4 linked regions of the Homo sapiens genome follow. The protein of the gene in region 1 interacts with the protein of each later gene in a pairwise test. Each region holds a gene or a part of one and is shown in the gene's direction. Other genes may lie near its edges.

Region 1 (5,027 bases):
CATGTCCCTGCAAAGGACATGATCTCATTCCTTTTTGTGGTTGCATAGTATTCCATGGTGTATATGTACCACATTTTCTTTATCTGGTCTATCATTGATGGACATTTGGATTGGTTCCATGTCTTTGCTATTGTGAATAGTGCTGCAATAAACATACATGTGCATGTATCTTTATAATAGAATGATTTATATTCCTTTTGGTATATACCCAGTAATGGGATTGCTGGATCAGATGTTATTTCTGGTTCTAGGTCCTTGAGGAATTGCCACATTGTCTTCAATAATGGTTGAACCATTTTACATTCCCACCAACAGTGTAAAAGTGTTCGTATTTCTCCACAGCCTTGCTAGCATCTGTTGTTTCCTGACTTTTTAATAATTGCGATTCTGACTGGGAACCACAGTTTTCTCTGGGTTGTTTGACAAGAGTAGAGTAGTTATTGTCTCAAAGTTGTCTTGCTAGGCTGACTCTTGGTCATTTGGTTAGAGAGAACAGCTTTTGTTGACGATTTTTTAGTCCGTGCCTGTTGGTGTTTCCGGGTTGTCACCTTCTTTACCTCCAATTCTAGGATACATGAGACAAAAAGAAAACCTAGGGAACTCGCTATCATGTCATACCATAGGTCTTCAGGAGGTCCCTAGCGGGGCGCCTTCTTCCTTCCACCTTTTAGAGTCTTTTTATGTTTGATATATAATGTATAAGGATTTTAGTTGTTATTAGTATGAGGAATAGGGAGAAGTACATCTTTGCCTACTCCATCTTCCCGGAAGCAAAAGTTACACCCACCACCTGTTCTTGTACATAAAATTATATTGGAATACAGCCATGCTTCATTTATATGTTGTCTTTGGCTGCTTTCATGCTAAAATGGCAGAACTGAGCATTTGCAACAGAGACCATATGGCTTGCAAAGCCTGAAATATTTACCATCTGGCCGTTTGCAGAAAATGTTTGCTGACCCCAGCTCTAATAGGTTACATGACTTGCCATGGTCATGTGACCAGTTAGTGGTAGATCAAGAGCTAGAATCCAGATCTCCAGGTATTTGGTTTTTCTGTCTCTCTCTTTTTTTTTTTTCCTGAAATATTAACTGGTTTGTTACAATATGGAAATACCATAATCTGATTAAATTGTCTGTTAGTACACATTATGATCAGTTAAATCACTATACATGTTTAATAGTCACAGAGAATATTGTAGAAGGTGAGGTTAGCTATTATGTGCATGTTTGGCTCTAGAGAGAGTGCTGTTGAGCTTTTTAAAACAAAAAGTAAAATGCTCATATATTTTGTTACAATGCTTTGAAAAAACATGGCATTTTATTCTTTGAATTTAAAAGACTATAAAAATTGATTTTTTATATTTGCTTTTTTGAAAGTTTAATGTTGGGATTTAATTATAAATTATAAATATAATTATAAAAGTTGCATCTTCTATTTAGAGGCTTTATCATTACTAAAATAGATAAATTATATTTTATGATAATGAAAGATAAATTCTCTACTTTTAGAAACTATAATTTTTAAATTTTTCATATTGTGATTATTAGAATGAGTGGTGGTAGGAGGCTATATGCAGTTCAGCAATAGAATAAGAAGCTCTATTTCTCCCCAGATGGAGGTATATTTTTATCACAAGAGTAGTATATGCTTGAAAAATAGTCAAAAGAAAGCCTGTACTTTACAATCTTCACTTTCAACAATTTAATATATACCCTTCTAGATTTTCTGAATGTGTAAGCATGTATAGTGTGTGAATATTTTTAAAAAGCTAAATAGACTCATATTGTGCTTTTTTTTACCACCAATCAGCAATATATTATGACACCAAACAGCTCCTAAGAGAATAAAATCCTTAATTTTTTGCATTTCAGTATCAAAGACATACAAAGTTCGTAAATGACTATATTTTATACTATGGTGGCAAAAAAGAAGACTTCAAGCGTTTGGGGTAAGTATCAGGAAGTTTACATAGAAGGGAATGTGGGTTATGGGAAACTTTAAAGACCCACAGCTACTGTGCCTTCTGATTCTGTCATTCTTCCCTGCTTTCTATTCCGGTGTGCCTTTTTTTTTTTTTTTTTTTTTTTTTTTTTTTAAGATGGAGTCTCACTCTGTCGCCCAGGCTGGAGAACAGTGGCTTGATCTCGGCTCACTGCAACCTGTGCCGCTGTGGTTCAAGCGATTCTCCTACCTCAGGCTCCCGAGTAGCTGGGATTACAGGCTCCTGCCACCATGCCTGGCTAATTTTTGTATTTTTAGTAGAGACGGGGTTTCACCATCTTGGCCAGGCTGGTCTTGAACTCGTGACCTTGTGATCCACCTGTCTTGGCCTCCCAAACTGCTGGGATTACAGGCGTGAGCCACTGCACCTGGCCCCAGTTTCTTTTTTATATTATAAGGTAGAGATACCATCCACAGCTCCTGAGTAGCTCTTCATGAATCCCATTTTTTTGGACAGGCCTCAGGTAGACTCTTTACCTGCTGAGCCGGGCACAACCCTGGTGATAAAAGAATATCTGAAGAATACTCATGTGTCTTCTTGGCAAAGATCTTTGAAATAAGGAAATTTTTATACCTTGATGTTTGGGATTGCTTTTTAAAAGATAGGTAAACAAGAACTCTCAGTCTAGCATTTCTTGCACATCAAAGTCCTTCCCATGTTTAAGGCTCTTCTATCAGAACTTGTTTTTTGTTTTGTTTTGTTTTTGTTTTTTTAAATTTTTATTTTTATTTCAATAGTTTTTGAGGTACAGGTGGTTTTTGGTTGCCTGGATAAGTTCTTTAGTGGTGATTTCTGAGATTTTAGTGCACCCATCACCCAAGCACTGTATGCTATACCTAAAATGTAGTCTTTTATCCCTCACCTCCCTTCTGGCCTTCCCCCACATTGAGTCCCTAAAGTCCATTATATCAGTCTTTTGCCTTTGCATCCTCATAGCTTAGCTCCCACATATAAATGAGAACATATGATATTTGATTTTCCATTCCTGAGTTACTTCACTTAGAATAATGGCCTCCAGCTCCATCCAAGTTGCTGCAAAAAGACATCATTTCATTCCTTTCTATGGCTGAGTAGTATTCCATGGTATATATAAATGGTGTGTGTATATATATATGGTATATATATATATATATGGTGTATATATATATGGTATATATATATGGTGTGTATATATATGGTGTGTATATATATATGGTGTGTATATATATGGTGTGTATATATATATGGTGTGTATATATATATGGTGTATGTATGTGTGTATATATATATATATATGGTGTATATATATATATATGGTGTATATATATATATATATATATATATACACACACACCACATTTTCTTTATCCACTCATTGGTTGATGGGCACTTTGGTCAGTTCCATAGCTTTGCAATTGCGAATTGTGCTGCTATAGTGTGTGTGTGTCTTAGAACTTCTTAGTTTTATGTGAGGTTTTTTTTTTCCCTCTAACAATTTTCTGAGTTGGTAGGACTCTGAGAAAATTTAGTACCACCTCATTTACCCCCAATTTATCTCACCTATCAATTTATCCTATATCTCCCAACAATCACTTTTTTTTTTCCTTTTTTTTTTTACCCCCAGACTGTTAGCATTTTATTTTGAAAGGTCAATCCCTTTGGCTTTCTTCCTCCTTTACTCAGTCTTCTACCTAGGAAACTAGTAAAATGAGATACGGAAAACTTTTCATATTTTTTAAAATTAAATCTCAGCAGAGTGGTTGGTTAGAATGAAACTTATTTTCATTCACTTTATTCATTTAGTGTTTAGTCAGGTTTCTCATTCTAGCTTTGGTAACTTAGCACCATTTGTATAATTGAAACCAATGCTACAGACAGATTCCTTATCCATTTAACTTGCTTCTGTAGTAGTATTTTTATAAGTGCCTTTTGAAAATACTGAAATATTTTTATAAATATGTGAACAAATTTATACTCACCAAAAAACTATCTTCATGTATTATATTTTTAATAAAATTTTCCAAAACTCACAGAGCTATTTAACCTAAATTTGACTACTTTTGTTTTTGTATTAAATTGAAAAAGTTCTGTTTTCCAGGGAAAATGACAAGACAGACTTGGATGTTATACGAGAAAATCATAGATTCCTATGGAATGAGGAGGACGAAATGGACATGACTTGGTAATTAGCCATCAGAGGCGTAATGCATCAAATGCTTTAGTCCTGTTTCTCCTGTTTTCTGAGTGGTTTTTTAGTCAAGGTGTTCAGCCCCTTCATAGAACAGTTCTGAATCAAGGACATAAAATCAAGCCTAGGATTATTTGGTTCTTTTGGTAATTTTTGGCAGTTTTAACTGACTTCTCATTGTTTGACTTAGTCTTCAAAAAAATAACATTCTTTTTTACAGTATTGTGTGTTATCTTGTAATATGTTATTATATGCTGCTGTTTTAGAAAAAAGTCATACCTGAAAATGTTTTTTTAAATCCAAACATTACAAAGGGTAAACAGTGAAGAGTGATTCTCCTTCTTATTTGTGACTGTCAGTTCTCCAATTTCCCTCCCTGAGTGAACCACTTTTAATAGTTAATATCCAGATATTCCATGCACATGTAAGTAATAGTTCTCTTAAAACATTAATATTTATGTAGTATGTATTCTTTGACATCACTTGAAAGTAGCAAACCATGGTTGAGTTTCTAAATGTATAATATTTATATTTTCATGGGTCTAGGGAGAAGAGACTTGCTAAGAAATACTATGATAAATTATTTAAGGAATACTGCATAGCAGATCTCAGTAAATATAAAGAAAATAAGGTATGCTTTCCACATATTTATGGAAAGAGGTTCTTATTCAAGTAAAATATTAACTTTTATTATACTGTCATGCCCCACATTATTCTTTTAAAGATGCTAATTCTAGACTCAGTTGTCCTGCGTTTATGATGTGTCATTTGGACCATTTAACCTCTGCAGCTGTGGAGTTTACAAAAGGCCTATGGAAATTTATGAAGGACAAGGATGCTTTTTTTTGTTTGTGA
Region 2 (4,263 bases), on another chromosome or scaffold:
AGACAATACACATGCAAATAATTAAAATATATGGTGTATCAGATAGGTGATAAGTACTTTGGAAAATAAGCCAGGGAAGATGAAAGAGTACTGGAGGTAAGTGTGTGGTTCTACCATTTTAATAGGTTAATCTCATCACCAAGAGGGTAACATTTGAGCAAAGATCTGAAGGAGATGAAAGAGCAAGCAATGAAGAGATATCTGGAATAGAGTATTTGTTTCAGGCTGGAGAGAACAACAACTCCAAAGTTGGCTAGTGTTGGTGGGCTGGAGTTGTAGGAGATTATGTCAGGGAGGTTTAGATTGCATAGGGCCTTGAGTGAGTTGGGGACCCACTAGAGGGTTTTCACAAGAGAAGTGATTGCTGTGACTTGGATTATAGAAATCTCAGCTTCTGCACTACACCTCTTCTACTTGAATTGATCCCTGTTGAGGTCAGTATGCTGGCCAACTGCCTTCAAAAGCCACATTTCCCACTGAGATAAGAATAGGAATATAGACAGAATAGCCCGAGTGACACAGAGGGAGAAGTCTGCTGCACAAAGGAGCTGGGCATGAGTTGAGCGAACAGCCTTTCCTGGGGTATCCCATAATTACATAGTTGGCTTAGAGCAGAACCCAGGGCTATTCCCACCTGTAGCAGATTCTTCAAGGGCTTATAATTCAAAACAAAAGAAAACAAAATAAAAAAAAAAACCTAGTTTAGAATGCAATAAGGAGATTCAGTGGATGCAATAGATCTCTAGAAATGAAAGGGGAAATTGAGCACCTGGCAAATACTCATTTTCCATTTCTACAGGATGGAGAAGATGAAAGTGCAGAGCATGATGAATATATTGATGGTGATGAAAAGAACCTGATGAGAGAAAGAATTGCCAAAAAATTAAAAAAGGACACAAGTGCGAATGTTAAATCAGCTGGAGAAGGAGAAGTGGAGAAGAAATCAGTCAGCCGCAGGTGAGTCAGTTACTGTGCTAGATATCAGAGTTTTTGTCTTTTTATATTTCACTTTAATTCAGATTGAATCCTCTCTTCAGCTAATTTTTAAAATACTATTTTCATAATGTTTGATAAACATAACAGTTGTACAAATTGGCCCATTAGCAGGCCTAAAATAAAATACACCAAGCTTAAAGTAAACATAACAATGATCCTATGAGTTCAATTCCATTTTATTTCTCTCTGATCCTTTTTTAGAAAGGCTCTATACTTTCATATATATAGGGTAATAATGTATTAGCTAGATGTGGAAGAATGCATTTGTTAAATACCAATGAGAGCAGTAGAGTAATTGTATAGAAAGAAAAGAGACATCCTCAAATAATTTCGGTAAGCAAAATTTGTCAAAACTGATGAAGAAAATGAGTGAGCCTGAAAACATTCTTAAATATCTTTTCAAGTCTGATTTACCAAATACCATATACCTATCCTAAGCTCAGTAGTATCATAAAATAAATTTCAGCAAATGGTGAAAAGTTTACTGTCTGGTGATGAAAGTTTGTTGGATTTATGACTCAACATTTTATTCTCCTGAAATTCAACTTAATTGAAAAATTATCTCTTTTGTGATTCTATTTCAACTTTATAGTATACATTTTAAATAATATTGCTTTAAAAAACAATAGTATTTGTTTTCTTCAAATACTATTTGGGGATAATATGAATGTAACTACATTTAAATAACATTCTTTTTCCCTATCATGTTTCTCAACCACATGTAGAAAAACTTAAAAAGGATTTCCACGCTATCATTGCATAGCTCCCTCAATTTTTTCTTTATGTAATCAAATAAAAATGATTCCCAGAAATTTCCACTAAAAGCATAGCTTTTAACATTTAGAAATGGTACTTAGGAGTCATCTTAAATGTCTTTTTTCCAGCAATATTCACCTGACACTCAAGTAATCACTGTTGAATAATTTTACATACTAGATTATATTATATATACCATACATAGTAGCTAATATAGACTAAAGATTTTAGTGATCATATGCATGCTTCTAGATTCATAGAGTTGAAAAACCTCTCATTCACACTGTAACTTTTAGTTAAATCATGAATATAATTATGGATACATAATGTTTTATTCCTCTCATTCAAGGCATGTGTTTTCTGATTTTAAAAAATTATGAATTTTTTTAAAGGTTAGGTTTATAATGTAACAAAAATATATTTAAAAATTTTAATAGATGAGCCAACCAAATATTTATTTATGTTAGATTTAAGTGTTCCTTAAACTCCCAACTCAGTCTTGTAGGCTTTAATCAATTTCAAATACTTATATACCCTATAATATAAACTATAATTTAGCAATGCTAAATTTTGTATAAGAACTAAAGTTCATTTTTAATGTACCTTTCATAAGTGTCTTTAAAAAATTGTTTACCTAATATTAAGAAAAGTCAAAGTTTGCATTTTCCAAAATTGTGTTCACTCTTACAATTAAGGGTTATTCTTAAAAGATTTCCTTGGCTGTAGTATGGGCCTGATGACCAAACATGGCATTGATAGCTAGATTTAGGAATCTGATCTATCATGAGAATACTGGAGAGCCACTGAAGTTTTTACAGGCAAATGATATATTGAGATTGTATTTAGTATGGAGAATGGATTGATAGAGGAGTGTTTTGGGCTATTATACAAAATACCATAGACTGGATGACTTAACAGACATTTAAAGCTTAGTTTTTATGGTAATTTCTTACATAGGAACATATATATCCACTTACTTATGTAAACAATTTTTCTCTTTTTATAAATCAGTATAATTTGCAAAATTAAAATCACATAATTTGTATATTCACTGTAGAGGAAAAAGTTATATTCAAGTGCATTGCAAGTCTACTAAGAAAATTAAATAAATTTAAAAAGTACGTTAAATACTTTTCTACTTAGAAAAGTAAATTAAATAAGAAGTCTCCAAAGGTGGCTTGAATATTTTAGGTAAACATGAGTATTGTGGACATTGTTGGATTCTTTTAGGTAAAATAATTGGCAAAGTGTGCCTTTGTAAATGGTGCAGACAGCACACATTTATTTATAACTGTTCTGTTCCCCCACATTTTCATTATTCACATTCTCTACTCTCCCTCCTTCATCCTATCTGTCCTACCTACAAAGAGAAACAAAAGAAAAATAAGGTCAGGATAGAGGAGAAAGTACAGAATTTCAAAAGGAAGAAACAGTTTTTTCCTCTAGTGTAGAAATTTCCATGATTGTCTCATGACCACGTATTTTTTTCAGTTCATAAAGTTGCCAAAATCAGACCCTGGCATGGTGGCTCATGCCTGTAATCCCAGCTGCTCAGCAGGCTGAGGTGGGAGGATTGCTTGAGCCTAGGAGCTCTAGGCTGCAGTGAGCTATGATCCTGTATGGGCAACAGAGCAAGACCCTGTCTCTAAAAAAATAAAAATAAATTTTAATAAATTTCCAAATCATTAGTACTTTTGGTTATTTATACCAGCGAGTCTCTGAAGTTAACTTTATGGTTAAAAAATAAAACAACACAGGAAAGCTCCAAATGTACTGAAAAACTACAACGTGGTAAAAGGGATAATTATATTTAAAGGAAAGTCACTGCTCAGTTTGAGTTATAATGGGTATAGCTGCCAGCCAGATAGGATGTCAGTGTGATATCATTATCTATTCAAAAATGTGTACTCTTGATACATGAGTTTTCATCAGGGTGTGCTTGAAGTACTCTATTATCCTTTGGTCATTCTTCCATTTAAGCAGTAGGATCAGAAACTAGACTAGCCCACCAGCCCTTTAAGCAATGAGCCGTTCAAAGTATAATTTTACTGAAAACGTGTGGTATTGCTTCTATTGGTAAGGAAACATCTGGAATCTGTTAAAGCTGGTTATCACTTTTGGATGTTAAACCTACACATGTATTTATTGAGTGCTTAATATTTAAACTGGGGAATGATATTTAACAGAATAATTTTCAACAAGTTTACATATAGTAGGATCTTCTCCTAGTAATGTGTTCTCAACAATGTCTCTAGTTGTTCATTTGAAAAAAGAGCTCAGGGGAAATACAAATCCAAAACGCTTCCTAGTTTCTCTCCTTAGAGAATCGGCACCCTTATATCTATTCTGACTTCCTAGGATTTCTAATCCCTTGTCTCTTCCCTTTTTAAAATGTACCAATCCCACTTTCTTTCCAGCCCACCTTCTCTATGCCTGTATCTTGACTACTGGATACAGCTCAGCAGAATCACACAGGCATATACAAGCTGGTATTATTATGGATTTCTAGAT
Region 3 (4,263 bases), on another chromosome or scaffold:
TCACTGTTTGAGTCCTGTTAGACAAATGTGGTTATTGGTGTGTTCCCTTGTATTGAGTTGAAATCTGCTGTTTTATTTCACCCACTGCTTCTAGGCAATATCCCTCACGTCGCATTCCAGATATGATCTTACTAGTGCAGAGTACAGCTGGAAATATTTCTTCCTTTTTTCTGGACATAGTATATTAATGCACTGTTTTGGGCTTAGATCACCCTAGATATTTTTCCTCCATATACCATGCCTAAGTGACTACTTTTCTTAAACACTTATGAGTGTTAGTAAGTACTCATTGCCTTAAAATAGAAGGAAGAATGAGTAGGGATATAAAAGTATTCTAAGTAGTCTAGATAGACTACGTAGACCTTTTCTTAAGAAAAATCTTAATTTTGTTGTTCTTTAAACAGTAACTTTCTACTTTTCCATTCTTTCCCCTGAAACAATACTGTTATTTTAAATGTTGAATCATAGTTAATATCAAACCTTGTTATTTTTTGAAGATAATCTTTTCAAATCACAAAGACAATTTAGCAACATTACAAAACATTTAGAAATAAGAAGGGAAAACAGTACTCTTAATTCCTCTACTTTTAAAAGCTACCATTCATCTGGTATAATGGTTTTAGTTTCTATAGTCTTTTAAGAATTTTTTTTATTGTCATAACCATATGTACATACAATTTTGAATCCTGCCTTTTTTCACTTAGCATTATATCATAAGCATTTTTCCAAGTTATTATAGTCGTTATAACCATCATTTTTAATTGGCTGCATTATATTCTTTTGAATAGCTTAGTGGTGAAGAAAACAGACTGTGGAGCCAGACTGCCTGGGTTCGTATCCCAGCTCTACCACTTACTGGCTCTATGATCTTGGTGAAGTTATTTAACCTCTCTGTGTCTCAGTTTTCCCATTCTATAAAATGCAAATAATGATATGCTCTACCTCATAGGATTGTAAGGATTAAATGTGTTAGTATATGTAAAGTACTTAGTGTGCCTGACATATAGTAAATGCTCTAGATCTTGTCAAGAATTATTGTCATCATTACTGAGTGCACATATCAAAAATTACTTAAGTATGTCCTATTTGGGGACTTTTAGGTTGCTTCCACTTCTTGTCCTTTTAAAACCTTGTTATGAGTAACAAAGTGTACCTTTTAAGATATTCTTCAGAATTATTTTTCATAGGCTATTCTACTCTACAGTTTTTTAAACTTTTAAATTGGCTTGTGCTCCACTTGAAGGTATTTGTACCGCATCTACACCTTTTGTATTGTTGGGAGATGTTTTGGATTGTCTTCCTTTGGATCAGTGTGACACAATATTCACTTTTGTGGAAAAAAATGTTGCTACTTGGAAATCAGTAAGTGCCTTAGTTTCTTTTCCTGCTAACTTTATCTTTCTATAGATCCAGAATTCTGAGGGTAGATTTTTTTTTTTAAATTTATTTGTAGTATTGCTGAATGCCAACAAGTTTCTGCCTATGAAAAAATTATATACTGCTCTCTCGGGAGAGCCAAATAAAAACCATGTGTGGAGAAAAACTTGAAATACAAAATTTGATTTAATTTGTGTAATAAAAATTAACTTGAAAATTCACACTTTCACATGTTTAAAACAGTTACTTAGTATCATGTTTTCTTATATCTGAAAATATTTTTATTTCATTGAAAATGTTATTTGCTTAAAAAAAGTGAAAGTGGCATAGTAGATTCTCAGTGCATGTTAGTGTTCTTTAATATTTCACTCTGGCAACTTATTATTGAAGAATGTGTAACAAGTTCTGAAGAAGAGTGATAATTTCCGTCTTAATTTCAGAATACATTCTATTCTGCTGGGAAAAATTACTTACTACGTATGTGCAATGGTAAGTAATTGAGTGATAAAATGATTGCTTTTTAAGTGTAAATATGCCCAGAAAAACACATGGTTGAATTAAATACCAGTGATAACATTTTAAAGATAGATTAGGTATCTGCATTTTTAACTAACAATCTGATTTGTTAGAACTCATTATTCACTTTAAACTGTTTTTGTTCTGGGCATAAGCTTAAAGTCAGAAACGTAGTAAAGTTTGTCTTTTTCATGTCATGTTGAACTTGTTTTGTTCCTAATTTATAGTACTTTTTTGTGGCAGTGGTTTCGGCCCCCAATTTAAGAACTACTGCTTTAGGAAAATACTCTTGACACACTGGTTTAGAAACTTTTAGGTGTGGTTGTAATAAACATAGAATTATCTTTTCTGTGTAACGTTCATTTTCATATATTGTTAGATCTCCTAAGAAGATTGTCTAAATCCCAGAATACAGTCTTCTGTGGACGGATTCAGCTCTTTTTGGCCAGGCTTTTCCCTCTGTCTGAGAAATCAGGTAAGCTTTTATGCATTAAATGAGTTTTCTGCAGGAAAATCTTTTCCAGTTTTTAATAGATTAAAATCTGTCATGATAATGAGAAAAATGGTTCTAAAAAGTTGAAAGACATCATAGAAATTGTCACTTTATTTTCTTTTACTTATAAATGTATAGCAGTCCTAGTATATAATACAGGTAATCCTGAAACAAAGTCATGGATTCTTTTAAGTTCAAAGCTTATTAATGTAAAGTTGAATCACACTGAAACATGTAGATATGAACCATCATATCCGTATTTCATAATGTATGCCTATTTTTGTGTTTGGATTTTCTCTCAGTCACAACTATTTAGCTATATAGACTTCCTTTCATTTCTCTTTTTTTAACAAATTTTTATTGTGAAATATAACGCTCATATAGAAAAGTACATAAAGCGAATAATAATGAAACAAATACTGTATAACCACTATCTAGCTCCTGAAATGGGACATTGCTTGTCCTCCAGAGCCTTCCGCCTCCCCAGTATGTTCAAATATGCGAGATTTTAATATCTCCTTGCTTCAGTCCTCCCTTCCTTAATATTGGGCTAATGTACCACCTACTTTATATGTTCTGAGGATTAAATGAATTAAAACATGTGAAGAGCTTACATTAGTGCCTGCATGTAGAAAGACCTATAGCATATGTTAGCAGTGGTTTATGTGCTTTCTTTTTGTCATCTTATGTCTGTGCTGTTTTCTTTCATACTTATTTTATGTGGTCAGGGTTAATATAGATTTACCACTTCTTGTATTTCTGGCTTTCTGTCTGTGATCATTTTCCCTTTTAGACTTTTCTTCAGTGCAGGTCTGTGTTTTGCCTAAAAATCGTTACTTCTCCTTTATTTTTTTTCCTTTCTTTCTTCCAAACTCCTGTTAATATTGGTATTTTGACCTCCTCCCAATAGGTATAAGATTCTAGATTGGCACTAGATACAGGATTTCATCTCACGGGAAATAATCTTTACTTTGTCTTCTGTTTCCCATTTTTCTATTGACAAGTCAGATGTCAGTCTCACTTCTTGAAGATAATCTACATTTTTTTCTCTGCGCTTAAGATTTTTTTTCTCCTTTGGTTTTCTTTTAGTTTTACTATGATGTATCTCTGTGTAAATTTCTTTTTATTTGTCCTGCTTAGGATTGTGGACATCTTGAATGTATGGATTAGATTCTTCCATCTAGTTTGTAAAAATTTAGCCATTATCTCTTCAAATATTGTGTATGCCTCTTTATCTTTTTCTTTTTCTGGAACTTCAATTAAACATCCATTATACCTTCTCACTGTATCCTCTGTTTTTTACTCCTTATATATTTTTTCATCTGTTTGTCTCTCTCTACCTGATTCTGAATAATTTCTTAAGAATTGTTTTTTTTAGTTTTCTAAACTTGGTAAACATTGTTACTTTATTGTCTGTATCTGGTAATGCCAATACCTTAAATAAGTCTTGGTGGGTCTGTTTCTCCTGTCTGTTTTGACTGTTTCTCACTCATGGTATCTTGCCTCTTTGTGTGTCTGGTTATCATTGGCTGTTACGTTTGAGAAGATGTGCTCATTGCTACTGGAGTATCACTACTTCTAGGCCCTCTCAGAGACCAGAGCTAGGAGAGACATATGTGTATACTAACCATACTCATCTGTATTTGTTTCTGTATCTGTCAGTATATATTTTACATGAACAGCAGCAAAAAATATGAGATTCTACTGATACCTCTGAGTTGAATCCAGCACCAGTAGATCTGTTTATTAACCTCTTTCTCTAACAGTAAGAAACTTGGCTCTCATTAACTATAATGTATTTACTTATTTGTTATACATTATCACTTTTTCATTAATATAATTTACATTTGTGCTTCCAACAGAATTATAAATTATTC
Region 4 (4,263 bases), on another chromosome or scaffold:
TAGGAAGCCCCCCAGGAATAGACCCTGGTTGTGAGGCTGTCTGAGGAGGCCTTTTGTCTCCCGGTAGGAGCACGTTTGCCGTGGACGGGAAAGATTGCAAGGTGAATAAAGAAGTGGAGCGTGTCCTGAAGGAGTTCCACCAGGCCGGGAAGCCCATCGGGTGTGTACAGCCGTGCAGGCCTCGGGGAGGGAGGGAGGAGGGTGCGTGGGCCCGCGGCCTCTGTTCTCAGCCAGGAGCTGCCGCTGATCCTGAAAACTCACAGCTGCTTTTCTTGTTTTAACTGAGGGGATTTCACACGATGTCACTGGTGACTTAACAGGAAGGAGAGGCACAGTGCACTTCCCTAGAGGAGGCCTGGAATTCTCTTGGCTCCCAGAGGTGTCCCTAGGCAGTCCCTCAGGACCCCTATCCTTTACCAGACCCCTTCTCCCAAGCCCCTTAGCCACAGTACCCCCAACCCCGCTGACTTCTGGCCAGTCACTGCAGCACGTGCTCCATCCCTGACGCCATCCACTCCCAGCGGCCTCCCTCCTGGGGAGCCACAGCCAACCACGCCCCTTTGTCCCTGCTCAGACAAAGCCTGGGTCCTGAGGTTGGCGGCACGAGTAGGGCGCCCACTCCTTCATCCACGTAAGCGCCTTGGCTTACGTGGCGGGTCGCAGCCCCGCAGGGAGTGTGTGCTCTTCAGCGTCTGCTGCCGGGAAGTCACTCTCAGATGTGTGAGGGTGACCCAGCAAGGCCGGGTTCCGCCTCGGCAGGTGTGATGCTTCCACGAGCCTCCCGGCACCTGCTCCTTGGTGGTCCTGGAACGCGGCGCTGTGCTGTCCAGGTCTCAGCTGCGTCTGGTGCTGGCAGGGCGAGAGCCGCACTTGCGTGGGTGAACATCAGTGAGGCGCACTCGCGATGGCCGCTCACTACCGAGTTCTGTCAGCCGAACAAGGATGAGGATCTATCGGAATCCTCTGTCTCCCCATCCACAGTCACTCACTTAAGGACCTGCCTGGTCACTGTCCAGGGAGGCCCCTAAAGTGGAGCCTCAGGAAGAGGTGCAGGCTCAGAGCTCCTGAAGGAGGTCCCTGCTGCAGCCGTGTCACAGCCGGGGTGAAGGTTTCGCCCATGGTCTCCACCTCGGGATCCCGTCCTTGTCAGAGAAGTGTTCCTTGGATGAGCGCCCAGAGGGAGGAGCCCATGGCCCTTTCTTCTGTGACTGATTAAAAATCTCGATGAAACAAGACAGCCCCTGGCAGGTGAACCACTGCCTCTGAGCATGCCTCCCCTGAAAACAGTGTGGGGCGCAAGCCCATCTCCTCCCCAATCCAGCCATGAGGCTCCCCTGGAAACAGCACAGGGCGCAAGCCTGTCTCCTCCCCGGTCCAGCCATGAGGCTCCCCTGAAAACTGCAGGGCACAAGCCCGTCTGCTCCCCGGTCCAGCCATGGGGCTTCCGTGCACGGTGACCCACAGGCTTTTTTCCTGAGGAAACCTAAATCCTTTCCCACTGGCCCCACCCACCCCTCAGCCTGGTGTCAGAGGCCTGCGTGGCCAGCCAGGGGCTGTTAGGCGGCCCAGCCGCTCACTGCTGGGACCCCTTCCTTGAATGCAGTAGTCGAGGTGGGCGCTGGGCTGTGCCAGGAGCCACTGTGGCATCTGTAGCTGGCAGTTGATGGCTGGGCGGCTGCACGCAGCGTCGGGAGCTGCTGAGAACCTGCTTCCTGGACTTTCTGCCTGCGCAGAGGGCGGCAGGGGGGTTTCATCTCATAGGCAGCCAGAAGTTGCTTCAGGACATGCAGTTTTGGGGGCGGGTTTGTTTTGAGAGTATCGCTCTGTTGCCCAGGCTGGAGTGATCTTGGCTCACTGCAACCTCCGCCTCCCGGGGTCAAGCAATTCTCCTGCCTCAGCCTCCCAAGTAGCTGGGATTACAGGTGTCTGCCACCAGGCCGAACTTTTGTAATTTTAATAGAGACAAGTTTTCGCCATGTTAGTCAGGCTGGTCTCGAACTCCCGACCTCAGGTGTTCTGCCTGCCTCAGCTGCCCAAAGTGCTGGGATTACAGGCATGAGCCACTGCACCTGGCTGTGAAATGTGTTTTTAACAGTGTTTCGTTACAGCTCACGGTAGCAGTTTCCACCTGGGCCTGTCGGGAGTGGGTAGGACTGTAGACAGCGGGAGGAGGGATGAAGGGTGCGGGGTGTTGAGGGCAGGGTGGGGCCTGACAGCTGTGGGCTACACCACAGGTTGCCAGGGGATGGGGCTGCTGTTAATGAGGCCGTACTCCTTCCACTGTTGCCCCTGGGTGGCCATGAGGCGCTGGACGACACAGGTCACTGAAGGCCCTGCTGTGGGCACAGTGCCTGGCACACAGGGGCCTCTGTTGACTTGGCAGGGAGGGGTTCCTGATGAAGCAGAAGCAGGTCCCAGGGGTGGGTGTGGCAGGACCCTCAGTTTCAGGGCTGCTGCGGCCTGTGCGTCAGGGTCAGGGGCGTGCGTCCACCAGCCTGCACTTGTTGAGAGTTGTGCTGCAGGTCGGAGGCTGGCGAGGCTGCTCCTGGCCCGTTGTGCCTCCTGTAGAAGGGGGGCTGGTGTGAATGAGAAGTGCAGCTGTGTTATCTATTGCTGGGTCACAGACCACCCCACAACTCAGGGCTGGGGCAGCCGCACATCATTACCCTCTCTGTGAGTGGACTTTGGCAGCCCGGGACTCTCGCCAGTCTGGGGTGTCCTGGGGCTTGGGGCTTAGCCCATGGCTGTTGGGGGTTCCCCTCAGGGGTCCTTGGCCTGGTGCTTGAGTGCCTGCAGGGCGTGCTTGGCGGGGAGTGGGGCTGAGGACACCTCACTCTCAGCCTTGAGTCACCTGGTGCCACCTCCATCACATCCCATGGGCCACAGCCTTCTGGCAGCGCAGGCTCACAGGGGGCAGGGTCGGCAGGGCTCCCGTGGCAGGGCAGCCTGGGGTCATGGCGAGGGTAATTTCTGTTCTGCAGGCCATGCAGCCTGCCTGACCCGTGTTCTTTTCGCCTTTCAGCTTGTGCTGCATTGCACCTGTCCTCGCGGCCAAGGTGCTCAGAGGCGTCGAGGTGACTGTGGGCCACGAGCAGGAGGAAGGTGGCAAGTGGCCTTATGCCGGGACCGCAGAGGCCATCAAGGCCCTGGGTGCCAAGCACTGCGTGAAGGAAGTGGTCATATCCTTCCTGGTAGCCAGGCCCGGCCCGCTGTCGTGCTTGTCCCTGAGACGTGCATAGGGACGCCCCTCCCTCCGGGCTGTCTTGGTGGGTGGCCTCTTCACCGGGAGCTGCACCTGCTGCTCTCCCTGTGGGGCCTCCCCCAGTGGGCACCGCAGCCATGTGTCTAAGGGCAGAGAGCAGATGGCTGTGACAGCCCAGCTGGTGTGAGGTGGGTCACAGACACGTCAGAAGCGCAGCTCTGGTGCGTGGTTGGCAGATCTGGCAGATCCAGGTCCCTTGCCTGACTGTTTAGTCTGCTCAGCAACACCCAGGCAGCCACACTCCGGGCCCAGCGGGGGGAGGGTGAGGAAAGAGTGTGTGCGAGGTGTGGAGGGAGAGCAGCCGGGCGTGCAGGAGGCGGGGGCTTCCTGAGATGCTGGGGGAAAGCGGCCGGGTGTGCAGGAGAAGGGGCTTCCTGGCTTCATTTGGGCGGAAGTTCTCAGGCCAGTTTGGGTGGCCAGGTGATTCAGCCAGCCTTGCGGCCCCCAGCCCCTCCTGTTGAGGTGTGTACCCTGAGTTCTGAGATGATGGACCAAGAACACCAGCGGGGCTGTTGCCCAGGGAGATTTGGAGGGAGGCTCCTGGAAGGCCCTGCCTGGATCTGGGAGAATGTCCATGTGAGCCCAACTGAGAGAACAGAACACTCCGGGGTGCCGGAAGGCACTGGAATGAGTAGAGCATGGACCCGGTCCCCTGCAGGTGTTGTTCTGAAGGGTGCAGTTCCTCTCAATGGGGCAGCTTTTTTCTCACAGGCAGCTTCAGACGTCAGGCCCCATCTCCCTCCCTGCGGCTTTCCTGCTGGGCAGGAGCGCAGTGCAAGGCTGGCCCCAGGCCTCTGACTGCTTGCAGGAAGATAGGGGCACGTGTCTTGGGTGGTGTGGAGGCCTGGCCAGTGGTTACATGCATGGTGTTGGGGAGGCTCAGGTCTGTGGCTGGCCGGCCCCAGTTGTGCCACCTGCTGCCCTGTTGCCTGTTGCCCTGCCCCATGAGGACCGGCTCCTTCACGGCCAGTTCTTCATCTGAAAAGCGGAGGTGCTGCCAC

Evidence for each region. Proteins that work in one complex are often made in the same cells at the same time.
Region 2: the proteins of FRA10AC1 (region 1) and CWC27 interact in a two-hybrid assay, tested with the Homo sapiens proteins (one large-scale study listed by BioGRID and IntAct).
Region 3: the proteins of FRA10AC1 (region 1) and THOC1 interact in a two-hybrid assay, tested with the Homo sapiens proteins (one large-scale study listed by BioGRID and IntAct).
Region 4: the proteins of FRA10AC1 (region 1) and GATD3 interact in a two-hybrid assay, tested with the Homo sapiens proteins (one large-scale study listed by IntAct).

What each region holds. Positions count from the first base shown.
Region 1 is NC_000010.11:93,691,785-93,696,811, reverse strand, and holds part of FRA10AC1 (protein FRA10AC1), read left to right. Parts: intron 1-1,874; coding exon 1,875-1,951; intron 1,952-4,082; coding exon 4,083-4,166; intron 4,167-4,718; coding exon 4,719-4,803; intron 4,804-5,027. UniProt on the Homo sapiens protein: May be involved in pre-mRNA splicing.
Region 2 is NC_000005.10:64,803,430-64,807,692, forward strand, and holds part of CWC27 (spliceosome-associated protein CWC27 homolog), read left to right. Parts: intron 1-799; coding exon 800-957; intron 958-4,169; coding exon of another isoform or gene 4,170-4,263. UniProt on the Homo sapiens protein: As part of the spliceosome, plays a role in pre-mRNA splicing. Probable inactive PPIase with no peptidyl-prolyl cis-trans isomerase activity. As a component of the minor spliceosome, involved in the splicing of U12-type introns in pre-mRNAs.
Region 3 is NC_000018.10:257,285-261,547, reverse strand, and holds part of THOC1 (THO complex subunit 1), read left to right. Parts: intron 1-427; exon of another isoform or gene 428-830; intron 831-1,243; coding exon 1,244-1,362; intron 1,363-1,817; coding exon 1,818-1,866; intron 1,867-2,272; coding exon 2,273-2,368; intron 2,369-4,263. UniProt on the Homo sapiens protein: Component of the THO subcomplex of the TREX complex which is thought to couple mRNA transcription, processing and nuclear export, and which specifically associates with spliced mRNA and not with unspliced pre-mRNA.
Region 4 is NC_000021.9:44,140,183-44,144,445, forward strand, and holds part of GATD3 (glutamine amidotransferase-like class 1 domain-containing protein 3, mitochondrial isoform 1 precursor), read left to right. Parts: intron 1-67; coding exon 68-160; intron 161-759; coding exon of another isoform or gene 760-892; exon of another isoform or gene 893-981; coding exon of another isoform or gene 982-1,216; exon of another isoform or gene 1,217-1,233; intron 1,234-3,022; coding exon 3,023-3,179; intron 3,180-4,263.